Linked DNA regions of Homo sapiens: regions 1, 3 and 4 are each linked to region 2. The links come from fine-mapping of genetic effects on gene expression. A gene starts in region 2. Each other region holds a variant in brackets. All regions are shown on one strand. Distances are between the middles of the regions. Region 1 has its middle 17 kb from the start of MIR593. Region 2 holds the start of LRRC4 (leucine rich repeat containing 4). Region 3 overlaps SND1 (staphylococcal nuclease and tudor domain containing 1). Region 4 overlaps SND1 (staphylococcal nuclease and tudor domain containing 1).

Evidence for each region. PIP is the estimated chance that this variant, and not a neighbour inherited with it, causes the effect. A credible set is the group of variants that fine-mapping cannot tell apart.
Region 1: its variant is the best candidate, but not a certain one, in a credible set for the expression of LRRC4 in whole blood (TOPMed, PIP 0.75).
Region 3: its variant is the best candidate, but not a certain one, in a credible set for the expression of LRRC4 in whole blood (TOPMed, PIP 0.71).
Region 4: its variant is the best candidate, but not a certain one, in a credible set for the expression of LRRC4 in whole blood (TOPMed, PIP 0.57).

Annotation. Positions count from the first base shown.
Region 1 is chr7:128,094,740-128,103,002 of GRCh38, reverse strand. No RefSeq gene overlaps it. Among named protein-coding and RNA genes, the nearest start is that of MIR593, 17 kb to the right of the region's middle. The variant T/C (reference allele first, on the strand shown) is at 3,389.
Region 2 is chr7:128,027,305-128,035,304 of GRCh38, reverse strand. It overlaps LRRC4 (leucine rich repeat containing 4), which reads left to right and starts at 3,868. Exons shown (of 2, transcript NM_022143.5): 1 at 3,868-4,392; 2 at 4,565-8,000. The coding sequence starts at 4,665. The coding sequence ends at 6,626. The region is part of intron 16 of SND1 (staphylococcal nuclease and tudor domain containing 1); the gene reads right to left. RefSeq lists silencers at 2,585-2,654, 3,305-3,424.
Region 3 is chr7:127,906,217-127,914,216 of GRCh38, reverse strand. The region is part of intron 14 of SND1 (staphylococcal nuclease and tudor domain containing 1); the gene reads right to left. Among named protein-coding and RNA genes, the nearest start is that of SND1-IT1, 87 kb to the left of the region's middle. The variant G/C (reference allele first, on the strand shown) is at 3,998.
Region 4 is chr7:127,999,232-128,007,231 of GRCh38, reverse strand. The region is part of intron 16 of SND1 (staphylococcal nuclease and tudor domain containing 1); the gene reads right to left. It overlaps SND1-IT1 (SND1 intronic transcript 1), which reads right to left. Exons shown (of 1, transcript NR_027330.1): 1 at 7,155-8,000. Among named protein-coding and RNA genes, the nearest start is that of SND1-IT1, 5.7 kb to the right of the region's middle. RefSeq lists an enhancer at 6,860-7,019. The variant T/C (reference allele first, on the strand shown) is at 3,303.

The sequences.
Region 1 (8,263 bases), 68 kb before region 2:
CATGCCCTCTGCCAGGACTCAGCTGCACTTTTAGTCATTCACTCATAAATCATTTATTGAATACTTGCAAGTCATGGACTCTAGGCCTGTCTTCCAGAGGATATCTGTAAAACCGGGGGAAGGGTCCTTCCCTGATAAGACTACCCATAAAGTGCTTAGCCCTTGTGGGAGCACACAGATCTTGAGCTGCTGCTGACATCATGATCATTTTGGAGGTGTACAGTCTAGAGAGCCTACACTCCAGAGCTTAGCTCTGCCTGCACTCTATGTTGGCCCTGGAGCTCCTAGAGCAGAGATTCTTCACCAGCCTCAGCCCCAGCCCCTCTCCTCAGGCAGCTTCTCCTGCAGAGCTGTGCCAGGGTCTGGCTCTTTCCCTTATATTTCTGGCTTTAGGTAGCATGAGTCTTGTTTGCTCCCTGCCTCCAAACTCAGGCCTTGGTCAGACCTCCCAGGAGCCCTCTGTGGGAACCAGGTGGGCTTCTCTACCTACTACCTCCTGCTGGTAGCCTCTGGCCTGAAAGGGCTGGGGAGGGGATAGCTCCTCAGGGTGGTCCTTTGGCCCAAAGCACCTCCTGGGAGCCGGTTAGAAATGCAGATTCTTGGCCCTGCCCCATACTTACTGAAGGAGAATGTGCATTCTAACAAGATCCCCAGATGATTCACAAGCAAGTTAAAGTTTGAGAAGCGCTGCTCCAGGGCCTGCTGGCCTGGAAGGCACCAGAGGAAAATGGAAGCTTGGTCTTCAGGAAATGCCCAAGGAGCCACCTCCAGGTTCAGGGCCTTAACTCTTCCTGCTTCTGGAGAACTCTCTTGTCCCTGCCTTTAGGGGCCTCTCCCTCTCCCCAAGAAAAGTGGTCTCACTGAAGTTTACCAGGTTCAAGTATCTGCAGATAGTATCAGGGGACTTGACTGGCTCAGCTGTGGGTCCCTTGTGCCCAGCAGAGAGTAGGTGTTTAACTCTGCTTATGAACTGCAAAACAGTATTTGCAATTGGAACACGATAGCAGTAACGAGGTAAGAACTGATTTGGGCGCCACTTCCTTGAGAGGGAGTTTCCAGCCCTCTCTGCAAGCAGAAGTGGATACTTGCGTCAAGGATGCTGTGGAAGTGCCCCCTACTTTGATGTAGTAAGATTCCTGAACCCTCTTCCCATGAAAGCACTGACACAGGATGGCAAATATATGGGACACACATGACCATCCCCCTTTCCCACACCCTTGGTAGACATTAATAATTGATTACAGCTGACTTTCTGGCATGACCTTAGAATCCTTGACTACAGGGCACCCCAGGGAGCCACTATCAATTGATCAGACATGGCACTATTTGTGATCTCTGCCTCGGGTCTCCCCCCTGGGAGCTGCCCTCTACAGATCAGGCCAGATGAGACAAGGCCGCCAGGCTAGTTCCCAAGGACATCCTCCTCCCTGCAAACCCGAGTGCCTGTGCGACTGCACCTTGTGAAGCCCCCTCTGGAAACGGCCCTCCCCAGCTGTTGAGTAAAGTGCAGCTTCAGATCTGTCTTTGCCCACACGGGTCCTTCTCACTAGGGGTCAAGGTCATGTAAGTGGCTCATCATGGTGGCCTCTGTGCAGCTCCTCACACCCTGTGTAACTTGGAATCAGGCACCCACCTCTTCTGGTTTGTCACCCTGTCAAATGGGAATGTCCCCAACTGTCATGCACTGTGTGCCACTCACACAGTGGACATGAGGACGGCCTAGGAGGTGCCCCCACATCAGTGCTAATACTTCCTGCCTGGCATGATGCCCTTCGCCTGACTCTGGAGGGCTCCCTCTGCATAGCTCTGCTCCCTGGGAACCTGAGACTAGTGTTTCCCTGTTCACAGCCAGTGAGGCCTATGTGCTGGAGTCGAGGCAGGAGTGCAGCTGTGATACTGGCTGCTCCCCCTGCATCCAGGCCCCAGTAAACTCCATCTCGGGGCTTCCCATGGTGGGTGGGGTGCACTGCAGCATCCTGCCCCCTAGCACTGCCCCTGCTCCACCCCACTCCCTGCCCATGGTCCACTCAGCCCCAGCACAGGACTTTCTCCAGAACTACACCCACATCAGCAGGGAGGAGTCATTTTCTGCTGCTGGTTTTCAGGTCTGTGAATCAGAACTGGCTCCTCCAAGAGGCATCTACACACACACACACACACACACACACACACAAACACACACACACACCCCAACCCCTACCACTAACTTCCTTCTGCTGTCTAAATCCAGATTTCAGGTCTGAGGCAAAGTGTCTATGTGTAAGTTTTGGCTAGGCATGGTGTCCTCCATGCCAGGTGAGTATGGGCATATGTCCTCTCCCTAGTCCATGCAGCCAGGAGCTCTGTGCTGTTTGCTTCTGTAACTTCAGCACCCAAATGGTGCCTGGCACGACAGGTACTCAGTGCACATGCGCTGAACACCTTAGCTACAGGACTAGTTCCACGCCAGCAAGGTGAAGGGATGGAACCCCCTGCCCTGGGTGTGCATGACTCCTGCTTCCCATCACTCCACAACTGGACAGCCAGAGACTCAGCCCAGTCATCTCAGCCTCCCCACCCCCCACCTCCTGACACCTTGACTCCCTTCTGGCCTCAACCCCACAATGCTCTCAAGAGCAGAGAGGTTATTCCATGCCTGCACCCTCCTCCCTGGGTGATAACAGCAAACACTGAACACAGAATCTGTGCTGGGCCCTGTGTAAAGTGCTTTACAAATCTCACTGAATTCCTTTTTTATTTTTTTAATTAAAAAAAAAGTAGAGCTGGGGTCTCACTATGTTACCCAGGCTGGTCTTAAATGCCTAGGCTCAAGCGATCCTCCCGCCTTGGTCTCCCAGTGCTGGGACTACAGGCTTGAGCCACCGCGCCTGGCCTCTGAATTCTTTTATTAACCTTACGATGTAGGAATTTTTATCTTTTATTCTTCAGTCTACAGATGAGGGAACCGCCTCAGAAAGGTTAATTAGCCCACTTGGGGCACTCGGCTAGCGTGCGGCACGCTAGGACTCAAGCTCAGCCCGTCTGCCTTCAGAACCAACCATATCCTCCACCACTGACTCCTTGAGATCAATCTCATGGCCAAGTTCTTGACCAGCACCAACTTGGCCTGATAATTATTAGTCTGTCTGACATCTATCTATCTATTGATTCAGTCTCTGAACTCAGCCTATGGTTCTGCTTCTTTGAAACCCAAACTCCTTACCCACTGGTCAGGTCCTGTCCTGAGCATGTGTTAGGACAGGCTGGAGGGAGGTGGCCAACTCAGGCTTGGTTGTTTCTGCAGTGGGCTGGAGGGCGGACTTGGCTCCATCAATACCATTTCCTCTACTGTGACATCTCTGAGGCTGAGACTGCTGACCACAGGTGAGTCAAGCATGTAAACGCATTG[T/C]GAAGCCAAACAGAAGTATCATTTAGAATAACCGTAAGTAGCTTTGGCCTCATTTTGTTCTACGTAATTGAGAACACAAAATGTTAACACCACAGGATCTGTCTTAGACCTGTGGCATTCACGTGGCTGCAGGAGAGTGAGATCTGCCCAAGTGGAGGGGGAGCTGGCCTATCTCCCAGGCCCAGATGACTCCTATAGATTGAAGCTGCCTGCTCACTGAATTGCATCAGTATCACCTGATCCATAGCAGTGACTGGGCCCAGGGCCTAGAATGACTCGATTGAGCTGGGATAATAGGTCTGTATTGCCTGGCTAGACACAGCCAAGGCCCTCAAGCAGCAGGGTGAGGGACCCTTGTCTCCTGCTGGCCTTGCCTAAGGTTCTGAGGCAGCTGTGAAGAGGTTGGGGGGGTAGGGGCTCTGAAGCCCCTATCCTACCTTGTGTCAATTCAAGCCCCAGGCACAGGCACTCTGGCAAAGATACCTAGAGATTGTAAGGTCCCATCATGTCGTCAGGACTATTTCAGGGAAAAAATGTCCTTTAAAAGACCCTGGCACCAAGAACAGCCCAAACTATGGTGATAGGGGTAAAAGTTGTTGCTTTCAGGGATGCTGATGTTCTACAGTCGATCCAAATGGTAGCTTCACTATATATATTCGCAAAAATCCACATATGCTTAAGATCTGTGCACTTCCCGTAACTTACACTTTAATCTGAAGTGAGCAGGGTACCTTGAAGTCAGTGTCTCGTGCAGGCCTGGTCAGCTCTCCCTGTCCTGGATGGCTGCTTTTTCCCAAAAGGGTGGGGCTTCAGCTGGTCAGTGCCCAGGGCTGGTGAGAACAAAGTCCCTAGTTTTGTGGCCACACGCTAGACTTGGAATGCAGAGAGCCTTCTGAGAAGAGCCCCACCAGCCATGAGAGGGCTTTGCTCAGTGAGTTCCCTCAACCAGACCCATTGTTTATCAGGTAAACTGTTGAAGTTGTCACCCTGTCCTCAAAACCTTCCTCACCTCCCTGGAAGAGCTTTCTCCTTTGAGTTCCTACACTTTATTAATTTAATAATGTAATAGCCATCTATAGACCCACCTCCCAGACCAACACACAGAACATTCCCAGTCACTTATGTCTCCCCAGCATCCTTCCTTATCTCACCCCTGGGGTCCGCTGCCCCACCTGGAGGTGACCACCATCCAGATTTCTGTGTTTATCATCCCTTTGCTTTTATGTTTTATATACATATATGTGGGGTGTCCACATGTCCCAGTTTACTGGAGATAGTGTCAACTTACACTTGCAGTCCAAATGTCAGAATTTGTGTTCCTTTTTGCTCGCAAAAACATCCCTATTTGGACAATAAATTAAATGATCACCTAGATACATGTATATCTAAGCAACGTATTTTTGGTTTTGAGCTTTAGAATAATGGTATTATATGATATGAAGTTCTCTGAGATGTGCTTTATTCATTCAACATTATTTCTGAGATTTATCCTTGCTTTGTGTGGCTACAGTTCATTTTCATTGCTGAGTAATATTCCATTGTGTGAATACCTTGCCATGCCTGTAGTGTCTCATTTCTGTTTGTAGGAACAAAGCTGCAGTGCCCATTCTTGCATATGGGTCCTGGTGGTTTTTTTGCTTTTTTTTTGAGACGGAGTCTCACTCTGTTGCCCAGGCTGGAGTGCAGTGGCGCGATCTAGGCTCACTGCAAGCTCCGCCTCCCGGGTTCACGCCATTCTCCTGCCTCAGCCTCCCGAGTAGCTGGGACTACAGGTGCCCGCCACCAGGCCTGGCTAGTTTTTTTGTATTTTTAGTAGAGACGGGGTTTCACCGTGTTAGCCAGGAAGATCTTGATCTCCTGACCTCATGATCCGCCCGCCTCGGCCTCCCAAAGTGCTGGGATTACAGGCGCGAGCCACCGCGCCAGCCGGTGGGTTGTTCTTAACACATGCAAATAGCCCCTGGCCACAGAACCAGGAGGAAATTGCTGGGTGATGGGGCATGGCCACTGTCAACTCCACAAGCTAAGGCCACAGCATTTGTACATACATCAATTACATCAATTAGGTCTTTCTATCACCAACATCTGTTCTCAGTATACTGTGAGCCCCACGAGGCCAAAGATAACTCTCCCTTTTTCTCCCAGCCCTTAGAACAGTGCCTGGAGCAGCTCAGGAAATGCTAAATGCCTGAATGTTCAGGGGCTATGGATGGCTCAGGGCAGACTCATTCCCATCCTGGGGAAAGAAACCTCAAAGATGTTGCTGCTGGCAGAGCCACAGGAGCAGCCCCATTTTTGCATGTGCTGGTTCCTGCAATGGATCTGCAGAAATCCAGGGCACTGTCAACATGCAGTGGTTAGAAATATCTGCCTGCTTGAGGGCTCTGGGCCCGTGACAGGAGTCACTCCTCCGCCCTGTGCAACGACACCCTAGCCTCCTTTGTCTGAACTGGGACCCCAGCTCACCCTGCAGGCCCCCGAGGGCCAGGCCTGCTGGGATGGATACCCTCCAAGGCGAAAGCCATGACGGAGAGAAAAATCATAGGCCTGGGGCCGGGAGATCTGTTTTCTATTCCTGGCCCTGCCATTAATAAACTGGGTGACCTTGGGCAAGTCACTTTGTCTCCCTTCTCATCCTATAAAATGAGTTTGGACAGTGATAGCCAATTCTTGAACTTGAGAACTCATCAGAATCGCCTAGGAAACTTGTTAAAGTGGATCCCCAGGCCCCACCCCACGGGGATTGGGGTAGTAGGTCTGGAGTGGCACTTAGATACATGTATATTTACATGACAATGAATTTAAAAAGACCACTGAAAACACTCACAAATGGTTAGAAAATTCAATAGTAGAGATTATAATAAAAAGCAGCGCTTCCCATCCCTAGTGTGCTACCTACAGGCAACCACTTTTAATCATGTTTTTGATCTGATGGTTACTATCTTATTGCTAAATAATAAGCTAGTTCTTGTTTTATCAACTTCAGACATTACCCATTGTCTTCCTGCTATGACAGATGAGGAGGACTCAGCTCACTTACCCCCCCACCACTCCTAATATAGTTCTGGCACTATTTTTGGAAGCTGTATTTTAACGAGCACCCCAGGTGATTCTGATGTAGTTGGCCTGCCAGCCACACTTAGTGCCTAGTGAGAGCTGGTGGCGACACCAAAGTGCCCATGGCCCATTTCTGAAGCCCCTGGTTCTGCTTGGCTTCTGGACTTGCTGGTAGGCCCTGTCCCTACCTGTGGAGGCTCAGAAAGGCTGGGCACAGGGGTCACACAGACAAGCACACTGTTCTGGGATTGTTGGGGACGGAACTGCCTTGCCCCGTCATCTTGCTTCCCCTTCTCATCTCATGTCACCTTCTGCCCCCAGTTGCATCATTAGGATGAGCAGATTTCTCCTTTAGGGCCTGACACAGCCCTAGCAGACAGCTCAATGTCTGACTTCTAATAATCAAGGAGTGGTGTATTCATACAATGGACCACACAAAATGCACAAGCTAAAATGAACCTAACCACGCAGATGAATCTCACAGGTGTGCTGGGTGGAAGACATCAGGCACATAAGAATACATATGGTTTGAGTCCCCTTATGTAAAATGTAAAGCCACGCAAACCAAGAAAAACAAATCAACATAAAAACATAACAAACAAAATAGGCCAAAATCATCTACTGGGATAGAAGTCAAGAGGGGTTACTTTTGGGGGTGAGAGCGGCTATGGAGGGGTGCATGAGGGGCTGCTGATGCTTTTTGGTGTGTGTGCTGTTTATGTGGGTAATGTTCACTTTGTATTTGAGCGGTACCCTTTTCATTTGTGCACCTTTTCGAATGTGTCTATTTCCTTATAAATGTTACCTCCCTTACAGGAATGAAGACAAACCAAGCAGCTCTCCTTCCTCCCTCCTAAACTCCCCCTTAAACAAGCCCTTCCCGGAATAGGACCAGGCAGGCTGAGGAGGCCAGAAACATCCCTGTGTGGTAGACTGGGGTTGGGGAGGTGGGTTTGGGGCTGGAGCCCAGAGACCTGATCCTGCCAGTCTTGATGTATTCCAGAGTTCCAGCCTGGTGCCCCACAGAGCAAAGCTGCCTGCTGGGTCAAGGAAGTGGCTGGAAATGAGGCCCAAGCATGTTACATGGGAAGGATGACAAGATACTCGCCAGCCAGGACCCATGTGCCTTCTTCCCCACCTGCTCACAGCCAAGCTGTCCAGGGAGAAGGTGGTGTATGGGCCCCCAGTCCGCCTCCACAGGCTGCTGGCCAACCTAGTGTAAATATTATTACACTCCTACGCATCTGAAGGACGTTAATTATTAAAACACATGCCACCCAGGGTAGTGCACTGTAATTAGGTTCAAATTAAATTAGCATCCTCTTGTAATTAGGACATCAATAACCACTCTTGAGGCACCAGCTTTCTAGCCCATCCCCATTGCTTCCCAATATGGGCTAATGCAAAAAACGGGGTCCACTCTCTCCCCAGGACGCAAAAATAATCAAACCAATAAATAAAATGGAGGCAGTCACGGGAGCCCTTCTCTCCACTGCCCGCCTTCGCTACTAATCCTGTCCACCAGCAAGAGGAGGGAGATGAGGTCGCTGCGGAGGAGTCTCAGCCACCAATACTTCCCTGGTGGCTTTCCCAAGCCCTGGGCTCTGCTGCATCCACCCTCGGAGACCAGGAGACTCCTCAAGCTGCCCAGAGATAAGCGATGCCTTCCCACCATCTGCTAGCCCCAGCTCTTCTCCTTTCCTCTGGGAAACTTCCCAGCCACCTGGGCCAGGGCCTCTGTCCCTTAAAGTCCCAGGGCACCACCCACTGCTGTGGCTTGTTATAGATAGCATGCATCTGCTGCCTCCTCGAGAGCCC
Region 2 (8,000 bases):
TTCACAGAGCTACATATCTGAGATGGGACAGGAATCATGGACTAAGAGAGCGGTAAGAAACTTTCTAATCCATTTCCTTGATTTTATAAATGGAAAAACTGATGTTTAGAGCTATTTTAAGATTTGTCACATGTCTAAAGGGGACTAGAACTCAGGTATCCCAATCTTAGCACAGGGCTCATTCTATAATACCAGGCTGCTGACACAGGCCTTCCCCAATCACTGCTGGCTTTTTTAGCTCTCTCTGGCGTTATCACAGCAGTCTCCCTGTGTGAAACTGCAAGTGAAAACAATCTGAATCCACTGTCTCTTCCTCTTAGGGTGTAAGTAGCCTTCTTTCCTTCTTATTCTTTGGTGGCACCATTCCAAATCCAAGAAGCAGTCAGAGCCACGGGCTGTGAGGAGCAAGATGCCATAGCTAGATGGTACTTGGGTTACCAAAATGAGAGGCTGCAATCCCACTTTCAGCTCAGAAGGGCTGTGTGCAACGACGGCCCCACAGCCTCCTCTGTAGTCCAGTTAGTAGGTTCAGTGGTGCTTTCCTGGCCCAGCTGGCTTACAGGGGGCAAAGCAGCCTGATGTAGAGCTCGACAGAGCTTGGGCATAGTCACCTTCATGGATGGCAGTCACAAATACTTACTGAGAGACAACCTCATTACTAAGTACTGGTCTGACCCAACTCGGCCCCCACTTTCATCTACCTTTATAGTGCGGGGCAGCAGCTTTCATTTGTGGAGCCTGGAGCTGAACAGACAGGGTTTGAGTTTGCCTACAGTAGCAGAGGACCAGCCCAGGCAGAGACCCTGTTGCCTGAGGAGGGAAGGATAGTCATACTTAATCGCTGCCATCCAGACCCTGGCCAGGGGTCTCCTCAGGCAATAGATGACTCTACTAGGTCGGTGCCAGCTATAAAGGAGCAGAACCTCTCACCAGAAAGTCTGAGTGCCCAGATGGAACTAAACCCCAGTATCAGGGTTTGACTTACCTCCATGTCTCCCTCATTCTTTTTCTTGATGAGAGTTCATTTTCTCAGCCCGTCTCCTACCCTTCATCTTACTTCTCTGACACATCCTTCACTGAACTTTCCTACAGTCTCTCTCTCCTCCCCCCTCCACTTGCCTCCACCATTTACTCTATGAAGAGTAGACACAGCGGGCATTCCTGTTAGTGATGAAAACATCGGACTCAGGGTTTGAAGGCTGGATGGAAAGGCTGGCTCTGTTACTTTCTAGTGTGTGACCTTGGGCAAGTTATTTGCCTGCCTAAGCTAAGTGCCTTCATCTGTGAAATGGAGACAAGTGTGGCAATTACTTTCACTGGGTAAATGAAGATTAAACAAGAACAGATATAAGTTCTTGGTATGGTGGATAGTACATAGTAGATAAGCATCCCAGTAAATGACTATTGAAGTGGATGAATGAAACCTGAGTTCTCATCCCACTAGGAGAATACTTTGGGGAATCACTTCCACACCCAAGTTTCTTGACATCTGAGACGTGCTGAGGCTCAAATCCACTATCACTTACTAGTGACCCTAGGCAACGTTTGACTCATATAAAATGAATAATAGGGTTGCAGTGGAATACAGAGTAAGGGTTCAATAAACAGAAACTAACAAGGTTATTATTTGACAGCAAATGATAACAGAAAGGTCTTGGCAAAGAATGGGGACTCCAACTTGCCTACAAAGGAACCGTTTCCAGGACTTCAAGTATTCCATGGCGTATTTAAAGAGGTTCAGGTTACTGGGCAAAAGACAATACTCAGAAATAGGTGTGGTAGAAACCAGAGAGCTGAGAAATCTGGGACCTCCTCGTTCTTAAGCAACAGCCCACGCGCAGGTGATGAGGGTTTATCAAGCGAGCCTGCCAGAAATCACACGGGGAGAGGGGTGGGTTGAGGAGTCTGGAGGCAGCTCTTGAAGGGAAGGGATATTAAACCATGCTATATTCTACTGGACCGGCTTCCCAGGGCTCAGCTAGATTGCCTCACCCACAGTCGGCAGAGAAAGGGGCAGTCTTTTTTCAGGGGGGTGGGAAAAAGCTGACCTAGTCCCCTTCTCCTACACTAGTCTGTCAAATGCCTTAGGGTCTCCTACCAGAAATAGGAGCAAGAATTCCACCCCCACTCCCAATCGCTACCCCTGGCTGCTACGCAGTTCTTCTCAGAGTCCTAGCCAAGGAAGGGCTGGCGAGCTCACAGGGCAGGGGGCTCAGCCGCCCGCCTCCCTTCCCCCAGTTCTCTGGGGGCAGCGGGGAGCAAGGGGCGACTCCGGCCAGCGAAGACTGAGAAGCCGCGGCTGCAGCTCCATGAATGAACGGGCTGTGTCGTGGGCTCCGGGAGTTCACCTCAATCCTTCCTGCCGGCCTCTGTGCTGTCCCAGGTTGCCATTCCCCAGCTCATCACACTTGGTCATTCCTGCCACTGTTTCCCGCCCCCGCAACCCTCATTAAGGAAACCCTCATTTAAAGCCCCAGTGAGAGCACAGGAGGGGTGAGGCAAAGCGAAGGAGGGGCTGGCGGCAGTGCAGCAGCGAAGCCCGGGCTCTCGGTCCTGGGAGCCTCGTGGCCCCGGCCGCCGTCCCCCGAGTCCCCACCACGCAGTTCCGAACTCCGAACGCGAGTCCGCGCCCCGTCAGCAGTCAGCGGGGGTGAGGATGACGCGGGCCGGGCGAGAGGCAGGCCAAATGCAGCAGCCCCGCCGCGGGCCGCCGGGCCCCTGAGCCCCGCTCTTCAGAGCCAGGGGGCCCCGGGTGCGGGCCGGAGGGCGGGGGCCGGCGCGGGCTCTCCCGCCGCAGCCCCGCGCCGCTCCAGCCTATCAGCGGCCACCCAACTGCTCCCTCCGACCGGCCCAAAATAGCTGCGAACGCCTGCGACTTGCGCGCGGCCCCTCACTTGACGCTCACTCCGGCTCGCTCGCCCGCTCGCCCTGGCCCCGCTCCGCTCGTCTAGAGGGGGCGGGGAGGAAGCGGCCCGGGGAGGGGGGAGGGGGGAGGGGGAGAGAGGAAGAGAGGAGGAAGGAAGGAGGAAAGAGGAAGACGGGCGGCCGGAGGCGCGGGGCTGCGCGGCGCCGGCCGGCGCGGCGCTGGAAGGCGCCGGCGTTAACCCCGCGAGGCAGGCGACGGAGGGGGAGCGGCGCTAATACATAAGAGCACTGCATCACGCTAATCTTCTCCCAGAACAGTATGCGTCAGCAGTACATTCACGTTCTGACTGAAGGACAAAAGGATGAGAGAGCAGTCTGCGTGGCTGCCGCCTGCAACACCGCGAGCCCGGCGCGAGGAGGAGACGGTGGGCGCCGCGCGCAGGGGCCCCGCTGCTGCTGCTGCCGCCGCTAGCCAGCGGGGACTATGTTCCTGGGCTCCGGAGCGTTTCCCGCAGCCGCGACCCCCGCTGCTCACGCCGCTGCAGCAGTCCGCTGGCGGCGCGGCCACTGAGGGCGCCGGGAGCCGAAGCCGCGAACTCGCTCCCTCCGCACAAAGCCGGAGCCGGCGGCGCGCCGGGGGCCGGGCAGCGGCGGGCGGCGACGGGCGGTTGCGCGCCGCCGGGGGCTGCGGCCGCCGCCGCCGCCGGACCCGCGCCCGCCCCCGGACTCTCTGAAGGGGCCTGCGGTGCGGGCGCGACCGCGGGCGCCGCGCGCTCCTCCGGCCGGCGGACCGGGTCCGAGCGCAGCCGCCACGCCGCTGGTCCTCGGGGGCCGGACGGAGCGCCGCCCCGCGTGCCGGCAGCCGGCGGACTGGAGAACTGACCCCCCGTTTTTGTCTCTTCCACCCTCCGAGAAGAGGCGAGGAGAAAGGGGGTGTGTGTCTGGGGAGGGCGAAGGCGCCGCGAACACCTCCTCTTAACTCTCGCCGCTCCGCGAGCTCACGACCGCAATCAGCTGCCGCCGGCCCGGAGCGGCCGACGCCGGGAGAGGGAGCGCAGCATCCAGCGAGTGCGGCCTGGGCGGCTTCGGGGCGCCCCCGCACTCCCTCCGGCGGCGGCCCGCAGAGCGGGCCGGGGCCGCCGGAGCGCACTTTGGCGATGAAGCGCCTTCCCCCGCGGCTGGAGCGAGCCGGTGCCAGGGTCCAAGGACAAAGCCGGGAAGCGCTGGTGGCGCCGCTCCTTGGGCGGAGGGGGGGGCATGCACCTGCATAGCCCGCCGGGCCTTGGCTCTCCCAGGCGCGCCTCAACTCCGCGGCTTCGCCGGCTCCGGCTCCGGATTTACTAGAGGCCATTTTGTCTCCCCCACCCCTTCCCTCCCCTCCCCTCCCCTCCCCTCTGCCCTCCCCGCCCCCACCACTTCCCCCTTTTGTTAATTAAAACTAAGAAGTCGGAATGGGAACGAGGTGCCCAGCTCCCGTGGAGAAAGCTTAAGGACACCACGCCAGTGCTTTCCTGCCTTCCTTCCGAGGTAGGTGACGGCGAACTGGGTGGGGACGGTTGCAGTGTGGGAGAGTCGTAGCTTTCGGAGGGCTTGCCTTGAGGGTGGGTTGGGAGACCAGGGGCCGCTCGAGTTTGGCAGGATTTTTTTCGGCCGATCCGCTCCGTCTCTCTAATCGCCCCCTCCCCACCTCCTTCTCCAGATGGAAAGAGGAGCTCCTAGCTCACTTAAGCCGGGGTAGGGCTGGTTCTCCTTTCCGAGCCAAAATCCCAGGCGATGGTGAATTATGAACGTGCCACACCATGAAGCTCTTGTGGCAGGTAACTGTGCACCACCACACCTGGAATGCCATCCTGCTCCCGTTCGTCTACCTCACGGCGCAAGTGTGGATTCTGTGTGCAGCCATCGCTGCTGCCGCCTCAGCCGGGCCCCAGAACTGCCCCTCCGTCTGCTCGTGCAGTAACCAGTTCAGCAAGGTGGTGTGCACGCGCCGGGGCCTCTCCGAGGTCCCGCAGGGTATTCCCTCGAACACCCGGTACCTCAACCTCATGGAGAACAACATCCAGATGATCCAGGCCGACACCTTCCGCCACCTCCACCACCTGGAGGTCCTGCAGTTGGGCAGGAACTCCATCCGGCAGATTGAGGTGGGGGCCTTCAACGGCCTGGCCAGCCTCAACACCCTGGAGCTGTTCGACAACTGGCTGACAGTCATCCCTAGCGGGGCCTTTGAATACCTGTCCAAGCTGCGGGAGCTCTGGCTTCGCAACAACCCCATCGAAAGCATCCCCTCTTACGCCTTCAACCGGGTGCCCTCCCTCATGCGCCTGGACTTGGGGGAGCTCAAGAAGCTGGAGTATATCTCTGAGGGAGCTTTTGAGGGGCTGTTCAACCTCAAGTATCTGAACTTGGGCATGTGCAACATTAAAGACATGCCCAATCTCACCCCCCTGGTGGGGCTGGAGGAGCTGGAGATGTCAGGGAACCACTTCCCTGAGATCAGGCCTGGCTCCTTCCATGGCCTGAGCTCCCTCAAGAAGCTCTGGGTCATGAACTCACAGGTCAGCCTGATTGAGCGGAATGCTTTTGACGGGCTGGCTTCACTTGTGGAACTCAACTTGGCCCACAATAACCTCTCTTCTTTGCCCCATGACCTCTTTACCCCGCTGAGGTACCTGGTGGAGTTGCATCTACACCACAACCCTTGGAACTGTGATTGTGACATTCTGTGGCTAGCCTGGTGGCTTCGAGAGTATATACCCACCAATTCCACCTGCTGTGGCCGCTGTCATGCTCCCATGCACATGCGAGGCCGCTACCTCGTGGAGGTGGACCAGGCCTCCTTCCAGTGCTCTGCCCCCTTCATCATGGACGCACCTCGAGACCTCAACATTTCTGAGGGTCGGATGGCAGAACTTAAGTGTCGGACTCCCCCTATGTCCTCCGTGAAGTGGTTGCTGCCCAATGGGACAGTGCTCAGCCACGCCTCCCGCCACCCAAGGATCTCTGTCCTCAACGACGGCACCTTGAACTTTTCCCACGTGCTGCTTTCAGACACTGGGGTGTACACATGCATGGTGACCAATGTTGCAGGCAACTCCAACGCCTCGGCCTACCTCAATGTGAGCACGGCTGAGCTTAACACCTCCAACTACAGCTTCTTCACCACAGTAACAGTGGAGACCACGGAGATCTCGCCTGAGGACACAACGCGAAAGTACAAGCCTGTTCCTACCACGTCCACTGGTTACCAGCCGGCATATACCACCTCTACCACGGTGCTCATTCAGACTACCCGTGTGCCCAAGCAGGTGGCAGTACCCGCGACAGACACCACTGACAAGATGCAGACCAGCCTGGATGAAGTCATGAAGACCACCAAGATCATCATTGGCTGCTTTGTGGCAGTGACTCTGCTAGCTGCCGCCATGTTGATTGTCTTCTATAAACTTCGTAAGCGGCACCAGCAGCGGAGTACAGTCACAGCCGCCCGGACTGTTGAGATAATCCAGGTGGACGAAGACATCCCAGCAGCAACATCCGCAGCAGCAACAGCAGCTCCGTCCGGTGTATCAGGTGAGGGGGCAGTAGTGCTGCCCACAATTCATGACCATATTAACTACAACACCTACAAACCAGCACATGGGGCCCACTGGACAGAAAACAGCCTGGGGAACTCTCTGCACCCCACAGTCACCACTATCTCTGAACCTTATATAATTCAGACCCATACCAAGGACAAGGTACAGGAAACTCAAATATGACTCCCCTCCCCCAAAAAACTTATAAAATGCAATAGAATGCACACAAAGACAGCAACTTTTGTACAGAGTGGGGAGAGACTTTTTCTTGTATATGCTTATATATTAAGTCTATGGGCTGGTTAAAAAAAACAGATTATATTAAAATTTAAAGACAAAAAGTCAAAACAAAAATATTTTCTAACTTGTAAGTTCTATTTAAAGGGGGTGGGGGGGAATCTTGGGAACGTTGTGGGGTACAAGCCACAAGTTAACTTGCTATGCTGCCAGAAGGGATTTCTGGTATAAGGTTGAAATTGCTGAGATAAAATAAACTAAAACAACAAACATCCTTAAAGAGGTAGGGTGTGGGCTGCTGAGGGGGCAAGAGGGATAGACTGAATCTGTCATTTTTTAGAAGATGCTTCATAGGACACAGGACTATCCATTTCTACAGACATCTTTCTTAAGCCGAGAGCTGTCTTTGCAGAATTATCTTATTAAAAAAAAATACAAAAAAAAAGCACCATGAATTTGTACTGTGCCAAAATGATAGTGGCAATAATATTTTTCTTCAGAGGCTAAGGGGAAGATAGACCTGTACATGTATTTTAAGCAGGAAAACCACCAAAATTCAAACGAACCCTTAAAGGGGCTGAGTCTTTGTCCATGTGCACAAGTCTTGGGGGTCTGTGCACTGGACACACATGTGCCTTGCCTGACAGAATTGCTTAGAAAGGAGCAGAGAAGGACGGGAGCTGGCGTAGCTCTCAGTCTAATGCTTTCACATTGCACCAGATTCCTGCAGTTGGGCTTAACCCACTCTGCAAGGCATGTGTCTATTCAGGGTTTCCCAGGAGGAGGAGGCCCCTGAAGGGGTGCGGCAGCAGGGGGGTGGGAAGGGAGGGTAAAGCAGAGAGAATGTATTCACAGGAGGCCATAAATTAGCATTGTGCCATGTCCACCTGTTGTTCCTGGACTCTGACACATGATTGTAGACAATGATGGCATTTTATGATTTTTAAAAAAGATTTTGTTTGTTTTAAGGTGGAGAGGGAGGAGAAGCCTGAATTGGGGAGCTTGGGAGTGGAAGCTTTTCTCATGCTTGTGATTTGGTGACTCTTCTAAATGCTGATTCATTAGGGATTATTACAGCGGATGTCAACTGGTTGTGGTGATGGGGTGGGGGCAGAACATGAGTAGCAAAGAAAAGGGAGAGACGAAAAGGGTACAGGCTCACGTAAAGTAATGAAGCCTTTCCCAACCAGGATGGTTCACAAAAAAGCTGTGAGATCCACAGTTACAAGTGACACGCATGCACACATGGAGTTCCACATGGGGTACTGTTGAATGGAGCACACTGATGGGAAGCTTCCCTCTCCCAGGCCCCCTCAGGAG
Region 3 (8,000 bases), 120 kb after region 2:
CTACTGCGGGTGAAGTATCTGGGGATGTTGCAGTAATACAAATCAATATAACACAGGTCTTCCTCCAATTTAGAAATCTGGGTAATAGCTTACATTTTCAGGCCCCTTCCAAATTCGATACTGTATTAGGAATTCTATAATTTCTTCCTGAGAACACCATTTGCTGAACAACTGAGGCAGAAAACGACCAGGGCATTTCAAAGCAACCCTGAGCTCTAATTTCAAAATATCTGGATGTTAACACTGCAAGGAGTGTCCAAAATTCTGTACGACATAGTCTGTAGGGAATATGTTGTAAGCATGCTAAATAAAGACTTAAAATACAAGTAAGCAGAATGTCTATGTTAGTGAAATTACTTACTTTGAAATGTTTATATAAGCAATAGCCACAGGACACAATGAGTTCAATCCAAGGCTAAGTAGTGTTATGATGGTAAAGTGGAGAGTGAATCTGGGGCTATGCAGAAATATTTCAAATTTTATCACATCACTCAGCAGCCATGGGACAGATCAGACAATCCAATCACACACCTCAACCTGGGAATCTGAAATTTTGTCAACTGCTGCCAAAATATACTTACAATCATCCCTGTAATGGGCTCATTTAACCTATTTTGACCCATGAAATAGAATCATAGAGTGTTATCTACATACACCCAGAGAATGGGAAAGAGAACAACCGAAGAGCATGGACCAGCTATAGCCAAATCTATGGCCAGAGGAACTCTCTTTGGAAAAATATGCTACTTTATTTGGAAAAAATGTTCCTAACTCCCTCAATTTCCTTTCTCATGTCTTTGAACAAAGAAGAAAGGCAAAAATCATTATAGCTCAGTACACTTCACTAAAAGCTAGGACCCTGTTGCAAATGCTGAGTGCATTTGCATGCACTCCTGTTTGTGAAGGCACAGTTAAACAAGGAAGCAGAAGGAAACTAGAAAAATTTATGGCAGAAAGTTTCCTGATAATAGAATCCACGACAGTGACATGCTACTGATTATACTGGGAGGAAGATGTTTTTGTTATATAAGAACGAACAAATAAAGAAGCCCTGTCTCTTAACAGTGCTCCACCTCTGGGCAGCTCACCTGAGCAAACATTTTCTGAGGTGTTGAATTGCAGAGCTAGGACACTCATATCAAAGGACAAGAAGCTGTGCCCTGCTTTCAAAGTCCAATCCTAGCTCCCTACCTCAAGGTTATCTGCTCTGGTGCCTGAATTTTCCAAGACAAGACTGTTCTGAATAAAAAGTTAAACCAAGTAAGGTACAGACTTGGAACCAGACATGATGCAGATGAAAGAGACATATTCACTTTCTAAATTTTTCTTTTTTTTAGAACTTTCACAACCAAATTATTGTTCATGTTTCCAGGTACAGAGGAGGCAACAAAACTAAGATTTTCAAAGCATATAATTCTATAATCCTTTATTGCCCACTATATATGTGGTTTTGTATTTCTCTTGCTTCTACAATTGTTTCCCCTGTTAAAAGATAATTTTCAATAAGGTAAAGTCTTGACTCTTATTCAAATATAAAATAAACTCATGTAGAAAATTTCATTTTAACCCCACTAATTAATGAGGGAACCAGAAAGGCTCAAAGAGACTAAAGAACAGATATAGATAAGTTACTAGGAATACTGAGGTGAATTTGCTACAGACGCAAAAACAGAGTCAAACTAGGGAGTAAAAATGTAAAGTTTGAAATCATTTCTCTTACAGGGTGGGAATCAATTGTATCTCTTCAGGACTACATTTCTACATCTCTATTTACAAAGATGCAAAACAGCCCAACTAAATGAAGCTAAATAAGAGAAGTGAGAAACCATGTCCTAAATTGGGTGCCCTCCAAAAACAACACAACTCAGTCAAAAAGTGGACTAAGATCTACAAAAGGAGGTAATGAAACACAACCATCATTAACTGTGGTACCTGCTGCAATGAAATTTTGAAAAAAATTCCCATGTAAATCAAAAATGCTTTCAAATTTATTTAAGAGAGGGATGGCCCTGTAGTTCTGGCAAATTTGAATAGGGGAGTTTCAAAAAACAGAAAGTGGTTGCACAGAACCACTTTGTCATATGAACAAAGAAACTATAGACAGCCAGGTGTTGTGGCTTATGCCTGTAAGTCCCAGTTACTTGGGAGGTTGAGGCAGGAGGATCTCTTGAGCCCAGGAGTTCGAGTCCAGCCTGAGCAACATAGTAAGATCTCATCTTAAAAAAGAAATAAAAGAAAGAGAGAGAGAAACAAACCATGTACAAAAAAACTCCAACACAATAAAGCTATGTCTTCCATCATAAGGGTGAGGGCAACTGGCTGAAGCAACTCTCTGGCAGAATCAAGATCAAGGTCTTCTTAGTAACATCCAACTCTTAGCAGAGACATGCTTTAGAAGAGGTGAAAAGAAAAAAGAGGGCCGGATGCAGTGGCTCATGCCTGTAATCCTAGCACTTTGGGAGGCCAAGGTGGGCAGATCATGAGGTCAGGAGTTCAAGACCAGCCTGACCAACATGGTGAAACCCCGTCTCTACTAAAAATACAAAAACTAGCTGTAATCCCAGCTACTCAGGAGGCTGAGGCAGGAGAATTGCTTGAACCTGGGAGGCAGAGGTTGCAGTGAGCTGAGATGGCGCCACTGCACTCCAGCCTGGGCAACAGAGGGAGACTCCATCTCAACAAAAGAGAGAAAGAGAGAGAGAAAAGAGGCCAGCCATGGTAGCTCACTCCTGCAATCCCAGCACTTTGGAAGGCTGAGGTGGGAGGATCACTTGAGCCCAGGAGTTTGAGACCAAGCCTGGACAACAAAGTGAGACCCCATCTCTATTTTTTTGAAATAAAAAATTAAATTGAAAATATAAGAGAAAAGAAAAGAAAGAGAAAGAGTTTGAAGTTTTTTCCAAAGTCTGGGAGAAACTTACGAGGTGGCTGCCACTTTGGCATCAGAGGTTGTGTGCCACAGAGGTGATGGCATGTTTCTGTGCAGTGAGGATCCAAGCCAGTCACCTGTACATTGTAGTCCAACTAGAGTTCAATAAACTTTGCTTGAAGAAAGAAGAAGAAAGAAATAGAGCAATAGCTTTTCCTAAATTAGTGACAACTTGAGCTACGAAACACAACAGGGAGGCAAGGAAGCCACCAGGATAACCCAACACTCCCACCAACCATGGCTTCCAGGCAAGGGGCCAACCATATTTAGAGAGGACACACTGCCTGCTCTGGAGAGCAAGTTCTGCAGACAGTGAGCTGGCTCTTCCAGAGTTCCTTTGGGATTTTCTCGGATACCAAATGCAGAGCCCAGCAGTGGAGCCAGCAGCTACTGTGTGAATGAAGCTCCAGTGCTAGGCAACCCCTCCAGGTCACAGAAACCCACCCGGCAGAACCATAGGCCTTGATGTTGTGCCATCTGTACAATAACTTAGACTGCAGTTGGCAAGAGAGACGTGAGAACATGATGTAGGGCCATGATTTTAGCCAAGTGGGGTAAAAAAGGGAAGGGCTATTTAAAACAACAAAAAACAAATACACTCAGAGAGCATTTGTGCCATCAAATACCAGAGACTAGAAAAAACAGAAAGCTGAAAGGAACATTAGAATCATATGAGGGTAAGAAAAATAAATCTAAACTAGGTGGGCCAGAAAACATATAAGAAAAACTGCAATTTAACACAGACCTAACTCATAAAGCCCCTGGGTGATTTTGCTCCTTTTACCTTCTTCAGACTTACCAGGCAAACCACTTTTTTCTTTTTTTAATTCTCTCTTTTTTTTTGAGATGGAGTCTCACTCTGTCACCCAGGCTGGAATGCAGTGATGCTATCTTAGCTCACTGCAACCTCTGCCTCCCAGGTTCAAGCAATTCTCCCTGCCTCAGCCTCCCAAGTAGCTGGGATTACAGGTGCCCGCGACCACGCCTGGCTAATTTTTTTGGTATTTTTTAGTAGAGATGGGGTTTTGCCATGTTGGCCAGGCTGGTCTTGAACTCCTGACCTCAGGA[G/C]ATCCGCCCACCTCAGCCTCCCAAAGTGCTGGGATTACAGGCGTGAGCCACCGTGCCTGGGCTTTTTAAAACTCTCTTTAGCCAAAAAGAGTAATAATTTTTTTCTTATGCTTCCATCAAGGCCTAAATATTAATAAAGAGCTAAGGAAAGGTAACACCTACAGAAACCTCAAAGAAAGGATGACAGTGCTATTAAAGTTTAAGAGGGCAATGAAAACCAGAAACTGAAGGCAGAGGTCAGGAGCAGATGCTGGAGAAAATCCAACCCTGTCTACCAATCTATTTCTTATCTATTGATTTAATCTTATCTAACTGTTTTAAAGGAACACTTCAATCCTTCACATTAGCAAGTCAGAATCCTACTGGTCAACTCTGTAAGACTTCGTTTCATGAATAACAGGGCCCCAAATGTCTGACCTTCTTCCCCTGTGCCCTGCACCTTCCCCAAAGCTAGTCACTGGATCATTCCAAACCATGGCTTAATTTTTAGGCTAGGGTGGTGGCTCATGCCTATAATAGCAATACTTTGGGAGGCCAAAGTGGGAGGATCACTTGAGGCCAGGGGTTTCAGATTGGCCTGGACAACATAGCAAGATCCTGTGGGTGTGATGGTGTGCACCTGTAGACCCAGTTACTCAGGAGGCTGAGTCAGGAGGATCACTTGAGCCCAGGAGTGAAAGGCCACAGTGAGCTATGACTGTGCCACTGTACTTTCAGTCCAGCCTTGGTGATAAAGTGAGACTCCGTATCCTTAAAAAAAAAAAAAAAATCAGAAATACTACGTATTTCTAACAAAATCAGTCACGGAGAAAGGTGGTTATAAAAAAGTGCTATGTGACATGAGCATGAAACCAAGCCATGATGTGATTAAACGTCCAAAGGAGCACAGCAGCAGTTAACAGATTAAAAAGACCCATGGATTAAGAGAGTAAATACTGTAATAGTGAAATTAACAGAGGAGCTGTCAGGACTACATAATATGAAATGGCAGAATATATTCAAAAGAAGACAATCCCTATTCTGGGACTTTCAGAAATAAGACTGAAGAGGATGCTATCTTCTTGTACCATCAAACAAACATCGTAACTCCTCATGCACAGAGGACAGACACAAAAGGAAAAGGACAGAGAAGAAAACTCAGATATACACTATGACTCATTGAGTCCTACTCCCATATAAGAGGAAGATGGAGAAGTGGAGGTAAAGGTAAATGGTAAAATCAGCACTCGCAGGGCTGGCTGCAACTTGAGGAGTGGGGAGCTCTCTCTAATCTCAGAACCATAATTGATTTGTCTGATCTACCAGAACAACAGTAAGCCATGTACCAGCCCCATTTTATTGCCTGTTTTACACTCTGTATCTGCAGGAGATTGTATTTATTACGGAGCAGGCTACAGCAAAAACAATAATAAACCTAAGATAAAGAACAGCTGAGAAACCTGAGATAAAGAACACTGACACACATACTCCAATTTTTTCTATGCTGGTGAGGGAGGGAGCTCAGACAGGATCAATGAAAAACAAAACCAACTAATAATGAAAACATGTATGTATGAAGTCAGTCACCACAGAACCATCCTTCAAATCAAGTAAGACCTAGTACCAAGTCGGTCAAATTCTCAGCTGGTTCTACACACTCTGGAACACCCTGGCTTGAAAGGAAACTAGACTATGATAGAAATGGCAGCAGTGGCTGGTACTTCTAATAGCCCAGTTCCTACTCTGTGAAAAATTGGAAATAACAAAAAACCAGTAACTTCTTCAGGATCTAAGGTACCAGCTTGGGAGTATGTAATTTTCTTCCTTTAGTGGTTACCCTAAAAATAGGTGTAAGAGACGCAGATGGGTCAACACGCACGCACACACACACACACACACACACACACACACACACACACACATTTATTATTATTTTTTTTTTGGTAGAGATGGGGTCTCACTACACTGACTACAAGACCAAGTTGGTCTTGCATTCCTGACCTTAAGCAATCCTCCCACCTCGGCCTCCCAAAGTGCTGGGATTATAGGTGTGAGCCACCACGCCCGGTCTAGAGGGCCAAATTTTTTATCAAAGCCCTAGACAAACTGGGGGTTCATTCAGTTGGTGTTATATGCAGATGTTCTGTCCATCTTATGGACAACTCAAAACTCAGTTGACCTTGACATCAAAACCCATCTGTAATAACAAACAAAAAGGCCGGCTTATTTGGCCACTACAGAGGCTGGTATCTTACGTTCTAAGCCATAAACCTCACACTCCTGTGCTTAGATGAGTCACTTCCAACCATAAGCAATCAGCCAAGCAGGTCTTGTATTTGCTAGGTCTTCATACAAAAGCATTTTAACGCACTCTGACCTTTACTCTGTGAAATCATTTTTTAAACAGCAAGAGAAGAGATCATGGAAAAGGAGTAGAAACTCAACCCCTAAAATGGAGGCAGTTAACACTAGAACAAAATTACAGGTTATTTGCTCCACCATTATGATATAATCTCTTCCATACAACACATTTCTTAAGAGTGTTTAGGAGACAGAATGTGCACTTAAGCATGTCTTTTTCCTCACCAACAATGTGTACTGGGATGGAGAGGAGGGTGGTGAGAGATATTATGCACAAACACCAGTTCATTGTAAATTATTTTGGCAGATATTGCCTACACTGTCAGCTCAACAAAAACCTCCATTTATCATGGCCTGCAACTAAGAGGGGGATCAATCTGGGGCAGTAGGTAACACAGTTAAAGATTAAAAAACAATTAAGAAACCTCTGTGAAACCATTACGTATATGTGCATTACATTGTCTTTTTCCCTGTTTATTTTTCATCTGGCTGTAAGCCGTCTGCCCATCTGACCTCACACCTGTCCCACAGACAGCAAAATTGCCAGCATGCTTCAGGAAGCAGAAAACCCATACATCTCACTTAAATTGAACAAGGGCACCCAACATACACACAGACTTAACACTGTGATGGAAAGAAGGGAAGAAGGTGGGAAAAGACAAAACTCCTCTATTAAAGAGGGCACCAAAAAAACTGCACTCTTAGGTGAATAATTTGTGATTCAGGCAGACAAGGTCATATCTGACATCCATTTAAATCGAGCAGCTTTTTCACTTTCAGTCTCCCACTTGCTCAAGCTTTACTCTTTTATTTATGTGGTGACTGAGAGAAATTTAATTGGCATTTATGTTTAACTTAAGAGCAAACCAATCCTCCAATACTGAGACAGAAAAGATAATAAAAATTGGTATGAAACTGAGCTAGAGTTTAAGGGGGAATTGGTGGGGTAGGAACAAAAGTAAATAAATAAATGAAGACAAGTTTCACAAGACCCACTGCTAATGACAACGGAAATAAAGGAATAAAAAAAGCATCAGAAATCATCAAGGCAGGAGGCAGCATAAGATTCAGAGACAGCAATAAAGATCTTTAGGATACCACACTGAGGGGTGTGGAGAGGACAACCCTGAGACTGGTGTGCCTGAACCTCAAAACCTCCTTAGAGTTGCTTCACCTCACTGTTGGTGCCAAATCAGAACTAGAAATGAACTCAGGTGGGCCCAAGGAGAGAGCCTATCCCTAAGGTTGAAATCAGCTTCTGGAAGGCCCTGGAGTATGGGCCCCACATAAGTTTTTGGATGGGCATATTTGGCCCTTTGTGTAGACGGGTTTTCATTGCATTTTCCAAAGCACTTATAACTTTTTTCTCCTGCTGAGGAACCACCAAAAATTTGCCCTTTTATTACTATAACAGCTTTACCAAAAGACAAATATTAAGGAAAGCATTGTTGAGAATGCCATGCACATACATAAAAATATTAGCAATATATATGCAAAGAATAACTCAGCTGGGTAAGCTACACAGAAAACAGGCCAAGTAACATCGCACTGGATGAGTTACACCTGTTAAAAATGAACATTAGCAGATACACCATAGTTACCTGTGGCTCAAAGGCCATTAGCTACAGGTTTCTGGGCTTCTCAGGATTCTAAGCCACAAAAA
Region 4 (8,000 bases), 28 kb after region 2:
AAGATCCGTCTGACAAAGCTGAGGAAGATGATGGAATTGCCAGGCCAGAATGGTTTATTAATGATCCATGGGAAAAAAAACAATTGTCCTGCTGGCAGCTTCACATGTAATTAACCAGCTTCACAGAGAGCTGGCTGCCTTCTCCAGGCCTGGCATCCGCATACTGCAGAGCTACCTGACACAGCAACACTGGGTTTCTAACAAAATCTCGCTACTGGGAGAGGGGCATCTAAAATAGTGACCTCAACCCACTCGGCGCTCAGGAAACAAGACTGAGATGGCAGTGCTCCTCCGGAGAAGGCTGGCTGTGTGCTCGGGCTGACACAAAGACTGCGACCTCCATGCTGGCAACAACCAGCCCTGGGAACTGCCACTCCCACTGCTCACCATTAACTGCCCACTCAGGTAAGTGGCTGAGCAGGGTTCTCTTCCAGGTAGCCCTCCAAATGCAGCCTCTCTGCCAAAAGTCTACATAGGCAGGAGTTTCTGGGAATTGGCTCACTTTATGCCACAGCAGCAAACTTCAGCACTGATGGGAGTTGAGAGGGCCTGGTGACCACACTGGGTGTGGGGGACAACAGTTGCTTCTGTGTAAGAACCAACAACCTTCAAAATATGGTACATAAAGGAGAAGCAGCAGCTGGGTTAGCCAAGCTTTGGCTTTGTAGTCAGTGCCAACTTCCCTCTTAAGAGTCCTGGGATTCAAAGAACCCTGGTCCTCCCACCAGGTGAGTGAACTAATACATATTTGCCATTCGCAATGCACAGTTTTTAAAATGTGCATGTAAGTGTGTGGCAGCTAACTGTCCTATTTGGGAGGTGGGGGGAGGATACCCCATTACCTTTCCCCAAATGAGAGTCAAGAGACTGTTCCCAGTGAGGCTGGTCAAAACACACATGCACGCACACACACACAAGGATCCACCATTACCTTTTCCAAGTGAAAGTCAAGATACTGTTCCCAGTGAGGCTGAACACACACACACACGCACGCACGCACGCACCCTTCCCATGCTTGTTTCTCTAGGGCAGAAAAAGAAGCTGAGAAGAACTGTCTCCACTCTACATTCCTGGTGGATACAGAACCCTCTAAGAACAAGAACACTTCCTTCACCCACAGCCCTGCTAAGGCCAGACCCTGGGCACCTCACATTCCCCCAGGGTCAGCTGAAGTTACTACTTGAAGGCTCATGAAGGGAATGACAAACCTTTGCACCTTTGGCAAAAGCAGAGCCAGTTCACAGGGGTCATGGACTTTTCACTCAGCACACTCATTTTACATTCTGTGGAAAAAGATAACAAAGGAAGGCTGTGTCCTTTAGAAAAAGGTCGGGGGCTGGGGGTGGGGACTTGAGAAGTGCTGGGGGAGACTGCAGCTCCATCAGCTGATGCCGTATTGCCTCTGCTAGAGAGCCCAGCACAGGTGGGGAGCTCCTCAAATAAAGCAAGCCTCGGAGTTGGAGACCAGGCTCCACAGCAGTTTTCCTGTTCAGTACCTGCAGTCTCCTTCTTCACCCAGCTTTGATTACAGGAGTCAAACACAGTGGTTCTCTCATTCCTATCAAAGCAGGTTGGAAAAAGAAGTAATCCCAACTGTAAATCAGCAACCTAACAGGCATTGGGAGAGGTCACTGGTGGCTTGGTAGGAAATGGATAGCTCATGACAAATGAATTGGTACTGCCTGCCATTTTTTCTTGCCATCACTTGAATCAATAAGGGAAAAGGTGAATTGCTATTGATCTCTTCAACACCTTTCAACGATACTGTACAAATTACAGAAACACAAGGGGGCGGGTGAAAGAATGAAAGAGGAAGGACAGATGAAAGACTGTCTGGGCGGTGTAAGCCTGCATGTATTTCCCTGGAGGCAGTCTTCCAGTCACTGGGTGTTAGGCATGCGTGGGTGCACATGTGAGTGTGGCATGAAGAGCCCTTTCTCACACCTGGAAGGGCTGAAGGGCTGGCTACGGAGGGCCCCTCTGCACCTCACATGCTGGCAATGCTCCAACAGGGCTACTTCGCTTGATACAAGGCTAGATTATTGAGAGGTGCTGTGAATCCCAAGGCCTCATGAATTTTTGAAGTTGTCACACGTTAGTGGTGTTGGGATAGGCTATCTCAACAACTGACTATAATTCTGGACAGGAAAGCAAGAATCAAAAGCTTCAAGGGCAATCTCTAGCTATACCTTACTAACCTCACTCCCTGGCTGACATGCCCAGAAAATATAGACAGACAGCAAATAAGGCAAAGCTATCTTGCTTCGTACTTGAAAATAACAAAGATTACGGCAGCTAGGGCACAGGCCTGTCCTTTTAAACACTCTGGGCAAAAGACATGGCATGAATATCAGAGGCCTGGGTCCAAATGTTAGAGGTCTGGCTGTAAACCTAGGGTGAAACGGATACTGACCACACAGGCAAGATTGCAAACTCTATGTAAATACGGCCTTATGCAGACAACCAGGAAATAAGACACACGGTTATGATGGCTGGGGATAACAACCCATAACACAAAGATGAACATCTGATGTCTGTTTTCATCTTTAGCTCAGGAATAGTGCAACCAGAGCGGCAAAGACTGAAGGAACCCCTAAGTCCTCTGGGACAGATTCTCTTTAGGATATGCTGCTTATCAGAAGCCAAAGTCAGTACTCTACTCATGTCCAGAAAAAGGCAATGCAAAAGATTTCATGGCATAGAGAAAAGGAAATATTGGCCAAAGTTTAGTCCAATGGGGAACATCATGGTCAGATCTCAGGGTCCCAGGCCAACAGTTCTCCTATTCTACCAACTGGGCATAATTATTCAGTTGCTGGTGACAGAAAAAAATGTTCTGACCAGAGGTCCCTCTTCAGGTCACACAGCACTCTTAGTGCATCATCTGGGGTCTGGGTGTCCTTAGAAACCTCCCCACCACACCTGAGTATTCACCTTTTAGCATTCTCTAGGCAAAAGAGGGCTTAGTTCTTCCATTTTGCAGCTGGCAAAACCAAGGCAGGCAGTCACTGACATGTAAAAACAATGAGAGCCCTTCACAACGCTCCTGGCACCCTTGCTTAATCTCCAGAAACTGACTCAGGGTATAACTGTATCATTCAGAAATCAGTTGATATCACAGTTAGCCAGTCTACCCATCTTCCTCCCACAAATACATCAAGGGCCAAAACATAGGGCAAAAAAAAAAAAAAAAGAAAGTAAGTTACAAAGCTGCTGATGTGTTAGAGTGGAAATGCTGAGATTAGGAGGAGGAAGTGGTTAAGTGCACCCTGGGTGTTTGGAAATGGCCACGTCTGCAGCCC[T/C]GGAAGCTGATGAAGAAGGAGCTCTAGCCCTCTCTGCCAGGCAGGCCACGAGACCAGCCCCTCACTCCAGAGGTAGGGAGCTTGGCTGTGAAAGGGCATGATGGTAAGATACAGCTATTTAGCAAACACCAGTCCCCTCCCACAAGGCATCTTCAATTCCAAAAGTGACCCTATTCTAAAATTACCAAGTGGCAGGTGGCCAGGCCAAAAATCCATATCCAATCAGTGCTAATGGACTGTTTGTTGCATTTCCTCATATATGGCTGCAGCACTGCTATGAAAACCCTGGGTCGGTGGTTTGAGATTTATTTAACTGGAGAGGTAACGGCACCCCAGCACCGCAAGCATTATAGAGATGTGTGAAGTGAAATGGCACATGCAGGCTGCTGGTGGGGAATGGAGGGACCTGTTGGTCTTATTTGCATGATCTTCCACCTCTAGCTGTACACCCAATGCCAAATCCTTTTCTGGTAACCATTAAAAAGAATTCGACTGCATCAAGAGAAGGGAAAGGGGAGAAGAGGAAGGCATATGTTAAGCTGAAAAGGAAAACAGCACAGTGAAGCAGTTTCCAGTTCCTTCTTTCATTCTCGGTTCAAGAGGTACCTGTTCTTGCTACAGTGACCCAAACGCTTCTTCTTGGAGGCCTTTTCCTATCCTTTTCAGTCTTGTTTAACACCTAGATTTTTCTTTTTCATTTTCATTTTTTTCTTCTTTTTTTTGGAGAGTCTTGGCTCTGTTGCCCAGGCTGGAGTGCAGTGGCACGATTTCGGCTCACTGCAACCTCTGCCACCAATTCTTGGCCTCAGCCTCCTGAGTAGCTGGGACTACAGGGATGTGCCATCACACCAGGCTAACTTTTGTATTTTCATTAGAGACAAGGTTTCGCCATGTTGGCCAGGCTGGTCTTGAAATCCTGGCCTCATGTGATCCCCCTGCCTCGGCCTCCAAAGTGTTGGAATTACAGGTGTGAGCCACTGTGCCCAGCCTGTGTTACCACCTAGTTCTTTCTTTAGTGCTTCTGCTGGCACTGTGCTATCTATCTTCCAACTCTTCAACTTAATGCAGGTCAAGGACAAATCTATGGCAATCCTGGATTGTTGTGGTCATGGTAGGAAAGTATGGAGACACAAAGGAGCACTGCTATTCTGTCAGAGGATAAGGAAGCCTGTACCAGCCAGGATCTAGTTAGTTCATACCCGTATCCCTCATTTTCAAGTTGCTGTGACAATGTCACAGAGGACCTGCATCAACAGAAAAAGCAGAGAGCCCTCACTGTTGGCAGATTAGTCTCCAAATACCCCTATGGCAAGTGGAGAACACTGCAAAGATGGTCAAACCATTATTCCTTAGACATCCATGAGGTATGTGTGGAGTCCTGGTGTCACCCCTCCCTTGGTGATCACCTTATCAGTCCATAGCCAAGTCTAGAAAAGGCATCTTGCATAGGTTAGGACTTGCTGGCATTATCTCCAGACCTTTGGTTTTCCACTGAATGTAATACTGCCTAATGTGTGGGACCATGAGGAATCAGAGACAAAGAGACCTTATGTTATTTTACTTCACAGAATAAAAGACTGGCTGATGTCCTGAGGGTACTTAAATAAATAATCCTTTGCAAACTTAGACCAAGGATGGAAAATAGGTTTCCGTTAAGTGCCAAATCCTCTCAACTGGTAGTAGTAGCGAGGATCCCTGTTTTGAGAAGGATCTGAGCCCTCAGCCAAAGCAGCGCGGTGACTGACTGGCAATGTCTGCCATGGGTGGACAACCCGAATAGGGGTAGCATATGCATATGTGCCATCACTGGCTTAGACAGGCTGGGGGAGTGAAGAGCACTGGGAGGGTTGTTCTTTGTTGATTCTAATCTGAATGCTGCTCACAACACACATACCTAGATCCAGCCTAGAACTCTACTCTGGTTTTGTACATACTGAAGTTCAAGTCCTAAATTTCAGTTAAGCCCTGAGAGAATTTCTTTTATTTTTTTTTGTTTTTGAGATGGAGTTTCGCTCTTGTTGCCAAGACTGGAGTGCAGTGGTGCGATCTTGGCTCACCGCAACCTCCGCCTCCTGGGTTCAAGTGATTCTCCTGCCTCAGCCTCCCAAATAGTTGGGATTACAGGCATGTGCCACCATGCCCAGCTGATTTTGTATTTTTAGTAGAGACGGGGTTTCTCCATGTTGGTCAGGTTGGTCTTGAACTCCCGATCTCAGGTAATCGGCCCACCTTGGCCTCCCAAAGTGCTGGGATTACAGGCGTGAGCCACTGTGCCCGGCTGAGAGAATTTCTATTAATAATAAAAATGATGCTGTAAGCTACCATTCACTGAGTGTTTAATATCTTGGGTTGTGAGGAACAGTTTACACATACACTTAATTTTCACAGTAACCCTAGTGAGAAGGTACCCTCCTTACATAGGTGAGGCAATTAGGTTTAGCAGGATGGCTGCATTGCACAATGCTAGGGATAGCGTTCATATTAAATTCTAATAGGCACTGAGATTGCCCTCGGTTTAGAGAGGCTAAGGGATGTGTGCATGGTCAGACAGCAAATGGTGAAAGTGGAATGAGAACCTAGGTTTGACTTTTCACATGCTAACAGAGTTTCATTAAGAAGGAAAAGATGCCCTTAAATGTCCTAAAGAAGAGACTAAGAATGAGCTATTCCTTTCTCACTATGTGAAACATGTTGTTTTGACCAGGTTAGGGTATCTCTGTTCTTAATTCTCAAGCTTGCTCATAATCTTATTTCATGCACCGCAGCATTTCATAACAGACCATTGGTCACTTTCATTTTCAAAATCCATTTAAGTGCAGCTGACCAGAAACCGTCACGGGTGGAGTAGCAAGTGGAAAGTTCATCAATAAAGCCAGGTTTGGAACACGGAGGTTCTCTTCAAGTCCTTGGCAACAGACACAGGGAGTGGGCATGCTAATGGCAAGAACAGGGCAGGGTAAAGGTCAGCTCATCCACCAGAACAGTTGCCCCTCTGTCCTTGGGCGAGTCACATGTGAAACACCACAACGTTAGTATTACCTGGAGAAAAAATGCCATCTACAGTCTGCTTGTGCTCTGCTGGTGGCTCAGGCAGCCTTGCTATTATACATTAAGAGCTGTGTTCTAAAAAGATATGAGTTGAATTATGTAATTCCATAGGGGATATTCAGACAATGGGCATGGCTTGCAATGTTTAGGACAAACGGAACAGGGAGGCCTGAAGCCTGAAGACACTCCAAACATACCACATTAAAGTTCACTTGCCAGGTGCAATGGCTCATGCCCGTAATCCCAGCACTGTGGGAGGCTGAGGCAGGCAGATCTCTTGAGCCCAGAGTTTGAGACCAGCCTGGGCAACATGGTGAAAGCCTGTCTCTACAGAAAATAACAAAACATTAGCTGGGCATGGGGACACGGGCCTGTAGTCCTACCTACTTGAGAGGCTGAGGTGGGAGGGTCACCTGAGCCTGGGAGGTTGAGGCTACAGTGAGCCATGACTGTGCCACTGCATTCCAGCCTGGGCGACAGAGTGAGACCCTGTCTCAAAAAAAAAAAAAAAAAGAAGCAAAAGCAAAGCAAGCTCACACTCAAGTCTGTATGGGTGTTGGCCAATGCTCTGGGTTCAGAAGTTCTTCTGAAAACAAGTAGTGGGCAGGTCTGTGTGAGGTCATCTTTAGTTTGTCAAGAAATTATCTGCTTGTCTGTAGATACTACCAAATTAGGCTTCCAGAAGGAAGTTAACAGATTTCACAATAGGTATTTCACCTGAAAAATAAAAATTCTGAGCTGCTTTTCTTCAGCCCTTTGTTATTAAAAATATTAGCTTCCACCTTTTTTTTTTTTTTTTTTTTTAGAGAACACTCACCAAAGCTCAAGAAGCAGTGACTATTCAGGATGATTACAGAGGTAAGAGAAACTAGGAATTGTTACTAGGAGCACCTGATATATCAAAATGAAATAAATGGCACCCAGCTCTCCTAGCACAAACCCTACCTCTCAGGGGAGTCCAGCAGTCTCTTCCTCCTGATAACATTTTTCCATTTATTCTAGGTCATAGGCCCTACATAGCTATGAGAGGGAGACCAGGAGACTGAATGTGCCTGGCAATAGCTATCTTCCATAGGAATGGCTCATTAAGAATATCATTTCATGTCAGATGGGTAGACTGTATCGAATACCATGAGTGGCAAGGGTTCTGCTTGGCAAGGCTCTGTTTCAAGGACTTTCATGACCTTATGTGATCCAGTACATGCATTCCCCAATTGCAATCACTGCCCACTATCCTCATCATCCAGCTTCAATTGAGATGAGGCATAAAGTAAGTACTGTGGACCCTTCTAGCAGAAAAAATGCAAGAGGAAATCACATGTGAGGCTTTTATGTCTTTACTCTGGGCTGAGCTGGGTTAGACCTAAAGATGGAGAGGAAAAGTGAGTGCCAGGAGTCTTGGAACTGCTAAGGTTTCTATTGCTTCTACTTGGGGGGAAAAATGAAACTGTCAGGTCTGAGGACTGTATTTCTTCCTTTTTTTTTTTTTTGATAGGAACAACATTAAGAAAAACAAATTGATCTGACAGAGAAAACATAAAACTCTCTTAAGGAAGAGTTTACTATAGTAGGGACACATTCCCTAGGGGAAGGGAAGGGAAGCGTCTGCTGAAAAGGATTTTCTTCCCTGGGCTAGAATTACATCCTTGA